2 separate regions of the Homo sapiens genome follow, and region 1 is linked to region 2. A link means that fine-mapping ties the variant in region 2 to the expression of a gene that starts in the linked region. Tissue or cell type: sigmoid colon. Region 2 holds a variant in brackets; the other region holds the start of a gene. All regions are shown on one strand. Distances are between the middles of the regions.

Evidence for each region. PIP is the estimated chance that this variant, and not a neighbour inherited with it, causes the effect.
Region 1: SOX11 starts here. The variant in region 2 is fine-mapped to the expression of SOX11 in sigmoid colon (GTEx, PIP above 0.99).

What each region holds. Positions count from the first base shown.
Region 1 is chr2:5,690,948-5,693,668 of GRCh38, forward strand. SOX11 (SRY-box transcription factor 11) reads left to right here and starts at 1,437. Exons shown (of 1, transcript NM_003108.4): 1 at 1,437-2,721. The coding sequence starts at 1,775. It overlaps LINC01248 (long intergenic non-protein coding RNA 1248), which reads right to left and starts at 171. Exons shown (of 5, transcript NR_110580.1): 1 at 28-171. LOC124908052 (a long non-coding RNA gene) reads right to left here and starts at 16. Exons shown (of 2, transcript XR_007088653.1): 1 at 1-16.
Region 2 is chr2:5,538,499-5,541,337 of GRCh38, forward strand. LOC107985842 (a long non-coding RNA gene) reads left to right here and starts at 1,602. Exons shown (of 4, transcript XR_001739261.2): 1 at 1,602-1,801. The variant G/T (reference allele first, on the strand shown) is at 1,634.

The DNA.
Region 1 (2,721 bases), 150 kb after region 2:
GAAGGCGAGGGTGGCGACAGACCATACCTATGAAGCGGTGATTTTCTTTAATTGCCCCCAGAATATCCGTAGAGGTAGTAGGGACTCAATAAAGAAACACAAAGGAGACGAACACGGCACGATCGCCGGGGTCCGCGGCTGCTCTGCGAGGCCCAGCGCGCCCCAGGTCGCGGCTCCCCGGCCGCCAGCGCACCTTTCCATCTCCAGGGAAAATATTTAGACGGGAAACTCGAGTGCACCTTATTTTCTCTTTGGTTTATGAGTGACCCAGAAGGCTTCTAGCTCACAATCGCACGATTTCAGGACGAGGCTGCCGGAGAAGCGCTGGCGACCGAGGATGGGGGAAGGACAAAGAGGAAGAGGAGGCCTGGGAAGGAGAAAGGAGCGGCGGAGGGGCGGGGAGAGGACGGGGCGGGGAGAGGAGGGGCGGGGAGCAGAGGGAGAAGGGAAGGAGGGCGCCGGGCCCCTCGCAGGGACGCCGGGCGGGGCGCGGGCTTGCTGGAGCCTGCGGGACCCAGAGCCCGCTCCGGAGCCAGCCCTGGGAGTGGCCAGCTTGAACCCGAGGGCCCCGCAGACCGTTACTCCGGCCCCCGCCCGGGGCGGGGCGCGCGGGGGCGCGGCGCAGCCCAACCCGCACAGCCGCGTCCCCAAACACCACCGAGGAGGGAAAACAGACGGAGAAAAAGGACAAAACAGAAAAATGCAAAACGGGGGAGGGAGCTCACCGCCTCTCGAGCTTTAAATTGATTTCTTTGCCTTACAAAAAGGGAGAAAGGGAAAAGGAGAGCAGAGCCCACGTGCCGGGAAGGTTGCTGTCTTCAAGCGCCACCTTCCGTCGGCCAGGGCCGCCGCGGGGCTACCGGGCGGGCTCGGGGCGGCGACCCGGGGGAGCGGCCGAGCCCCGCGAGGGGCTCGCCGGGGAGCAGCTGCGCCCACCCCGGGGCAGGCCGGGCGCGGCTGACCGCGAGCCGGGCGGAGGCCGCCGTCTCAGGCTGGGCGCGTGCCCGAGTGTGTGCACCCGGGGAGTGAGCGCGCGCCGTCCGCTGTCGCCGTCGGGCCTCCCGGGGACTGGGCACAAAGGCGCGCGGGGCCTCTCCCGGGACCCGGTCCTCGGTTAGCGCCGGCGCCCGAACCATCCCGGTTCGCCCCGGGCCGCCCGCTCCCCGTGGTGCCGCGCGCCGCTTCCGAGCATCCCGGGAACAGGCGCATCTGTGCACACACGCGGATTTTTTAAAAATAACATATTTCTAGACATGCCTCCTCTCCCCCCACCCCCATCTTTGCAAAGCAGCCCGGAGGGCGGGGTGGAGGGGCGGGGCCTCCGAGTTAATAAAGGAAGATGGGCGGAGCCGGCCCCCAGCCATTGGCTAGCTGGGGGAGTGATGTCACCCATATGACACCCTGATAACTAGTTGAGAGAGAGACCTCAACTTTTTGCAGAAGGAGCGCGCGCGCCTGGGAGAGCTCGGGGTCCGGCGCTTGCGGTAGGAGCCACGAGCCGGAGAGAGGGGTCCCGGGCTGCCTCGACCGCCGTCGCCACCGCCTCTCCTGTCGCGACCGCAGCTCCCACCGCGCCGGCGGCCGTCGTCGCCGAAGCCACCACAGCCGCTGTGTGCAGCCTGGAAGGGGGGGCGGGGGGGAGGGGGGGAGCCGCGAAAGCGGGGTGCCGAGGACTTTGCAACTTGCCCAGGAAGGTGGAGGGGTGGGAGGGGGAGGGGGACCTCCGCACGAGACCCAGCGGCCCGGGTTGGAGCGTCCAGCCCTGCAGCGGATCATGGTGCAGCAGGCGGAGAGCTTGGAAGCGGAGAGCAACCTGCCCCGGGAGGCGCTGGACACGGAGGAGGGCGAATTCATGGCTTGCAGCCCGGTGGCCCTGGACGAGAGCGACCCAGACTGGTGCAAGACGGCGTCGGGCCACATCAAGCGGCCGATGAACGCGTTCATGGTATGGTCCAAGATCGAACGCAGGAAGATCATGGAGCAGTCTCCGGACATGCACAACGCCGAGATCTCCAAGAGGCTGGGCAAGCGCTGGAAAATGCTGAAGGACAGCGAGAAGATCCCGTTCATCCGGGAGGCGGAGCGGCTGCGGCTCAAGCACATGGCCGACTACCCCGACTACAAGTACCGGCCCCGGAAAAAGCCCAAAATGGACCCCTCGGCCAAGCCCAGCGCCAGCCAGAGCCCAGAGAAGAGCGCGGCCGGCGGCGGCGGCGGGAGCGCGGGCGGAGGCGCGGGCGGTGCCAAGACCTCCAAGGGCTCCAGCAAGAAATGCGGCAAGCTCAAGGCCCCCGCGGCCGCGGGCGCCAAGGCGGGCGCGGGCAAGGCGGCCCAGTCCGGGGACTACGGGGGCGCGGGCGACGACTACGTGCTGGGCAGCCTGCGCGTGAGCGGCTCGGGCGGCGGCGGCGCGGGCAAGACGGTCAAGTGCGTGTTTCTGGATGAGGACGACGACGACGACGACGACGACGACGAGCTGCAGCTGCAGATCAAACAGGAGCCGGACGAGGAGGACGAGGAACCACCGCACCAGCAGCTCCTGCAGCCGCCGGGGCAGCAGCCGTCGCAGCTGCTGAGACGCTACAACGTCGCCAAAGTGCCCGCCAGCCCTACGCTGAGCAGCTCGGCGGAGTCCCCCGAGGGAGCGAGCCTCTACGACGAGGTGCGGGCCGGCGCGACCTCGGGCGCCGGGGGCGGCAGCCGCCTCTACTACAGCTTCAA
Region 2 (2,839 bases):
TGTGCTCACTCACAGACAGTGTGGGAAAGCCTGGTGCTTCAGTGATTAATTGGGGTTCCAAGATAGGTCTTGGGACATGATAATTCTTTATGGGAAATGGGATTAAAATTGGACACTTCTACAATTTTCCTTCTTTATAGTGAAAATTTCATTTTTCATTAGTTGGCCAAATAATTCCATGTGCAGTCATCCCTGAATTAATCTTGAATTAATTTTTAAATCTCCTGTCTTCTAATATAGAATTTGCTATAAGAAAACGCAGCACAGTCCATCTTTCATTAGACACGGGGTGAGGGGTCAGCAGACACCCTTGCTACACTGAAAATGAAGGCCCCACATCTGGCGCAGGCTGGCGTCTGGAAGGGAAATGCACAGCCGTGGTCTTGCTCGTCCTGCAGAAAACGTCGGCTTCAGAATGGCTGCAGGCTGAAACATGAACCAGGGCATCTGAGTGCCGGAATAGGCTGTTTGTGTATGGAGCTGGTTTATTAGCCAATGTGCAGGCCTGGAGCCCACAAGAAGTCTACCCTCCAGCTGATCTGTCACACACTTAACAAGCTGTGTATAATATAGCCCATCTCATGCAGAAGGGGGGACTCATTCCCTCAGGTATCAAAAGACCTGATACTTTTAGCATGGGGCATGCTCTGGTTTTGAGGGTTTGCCTCATTACAAGCCGCAGGCTCTTTGAAATCAGAGGAAGAAAGCACACAGACCCATTACATTTTACTCCTGAGCTCTGCTGGGGGAAGGACTTGCTGCTCTTTGTACACTTCTTCGTCCATGTCTGGACATAGCCTCATGCGTTTCTTTTTTCATGCTTCACCTAACAATGAACATTCAATAAAAATTCCAAGGCTACCCAAATCGCAGCAGAAGAGGGTGTGGGAGTGAACTTGAGGTGTGCCGTGGGGTCTGGCCCTCAGCAATTTAAACAGAGCAGCTTTCCAAACTCAGCAGAGCACACATCAGAGTGTGTTTAGTTCATCTGGGCTGGTGAGTTCCAGTGATGAAAGCCTGGTGCTAATGGAGGCGAGGTCACCGGTTCAATCCTCATAGGACCCAGTTCACTTACAAGAGAAAAAACACTACTCAAGAACCAGAGACACCTCCTGACCCCAGTCACTGACCACAAGAAGGATGGGGTGAAAACGATGGCTGACCCAGGGCAAAACCATCTGATAAACAACTCAGACAGCACACCCCCAACCCCCAGCAGGAGAAGCCAGCACCTTCTAGTTTAAGGATTTTATAAAACCGCTTTTATAAAAATCCCTGCGGACAAGTTCACAGTAGCTGACTCCCCAAGATGAGACGTGCTGCTTTAGGTAACCTTTGGGTCCTTTCTGCTTGGGAAATTCCTTTGTCCCCTTTAGTTCACCCCAGAAGGGCCCCAGTGTGTTGCACCGGGAGGAGATTTAGCCTCCCGGGGGCCAGGGTCAGGGGAGGGAGCTGTGGGACGCAGAACCTGCCTGCTCTGCAGGTCTGAAGGAGAGACTGTTGAACTTCACAGACTTCCGGAAAAACAGGCGGTGAGGGAGGTGGAGGGGAGGCGGGGAGGGGGCTGCTGTGTTTATCCAAGTGCTCCAGCGGCTGCGGGAGTTTTCTGCTTGTGTTTATATTTTCAGAAGGG[G/T]GCTGAAGAGCTATGCCCAGACTGGAGCACGAGTCTGCTTGCTGGTGTGTTTCTCAGTCCAGTTTGATTTTTTAAAGGTACCCTCCATGGGACAGAACTCTGCTTACAAACTTTAAAACTGGATGATGCAAAAATTACCTGCACAGCAGAGGAGGACAACGAACCATAGTAAGTTTAAGTGATGGATTCTTTAATCTATCATTAATTTGTACAGATAAGTCAAAGAAAGGTAGTAGCAGATACGGAGCCCTCGCCGTGTACGCAACGCTTGACATCCTTTCTCACTGAGTCCCCACAGTAGACCTAGTGCTGCCATTTTGCAGGTGAGAAAACTGAAATGCCATATACGGTAGAGATGGGAGTCGAAACTCCTACTTCCTTTTGATAAATCCAGGATTCTTGCCTTAGTAAAATGGACTGTTTTTTGATTGCTGTTTTTTGCTTGTTTGTTTTGCCTTAAAACGCAATATAAATATATAGAGTTAGCTCTCCATTGTTACTTCTTTATAATTGAGATCAATAAGTACATTATTATAAAAATTAGGAGAAACAATACACTGATATAAACAATTACAATGTCTCTGTTGTTTTTAAATAAAAAAAAAAAAAACTGATTTTGCTTTTATCCATAACAGAAAAGGTAAGTTTGTGGGCTGGCTTCTTAGAAAAGACTCAGAATGGTTTACATAAATGTGTCCTTTGAAATGCCTAAGTGCAATAATCAAAGAAAATCGAAAATTAAATTTCCATATGAAAACTGATCCAGTCAACTAAAATTACTGCAAAGCTAAGGCATCCATCATTACTTTGAGCAAAGGGCTAGTGCCCCCAAACCCACGTATGATTTTATACACCCATAGCTCCATATTCGGGGATTTGGCTCAGCTGGTGGGTGCACGTGGCAATAAAGAGGCCAGCCAACTCCACAGAGAGCTGCCAGGTTAACCCTGGGCTGTGGGCAGAGCTAATAAAAAACAGGCACACCAGCCCAAACCCCAGACACACACAAAACCCAGCCTCAACTATTTTAATGTTTTCTTTCTTCTATTTATTTTTCCTGTTTTTTTCCTTTCTCCTTGTAAGAGTCCTCAGAAATCTTTTTCCAGTTCCGTTCCAGAGGAAAAGAAGACATTATAAAAATTAAAAAGGACAGTTGAGGTTTACAGATAAGCTTATCTTTGAGCTAAGAGTCTGAGGATGTGAACC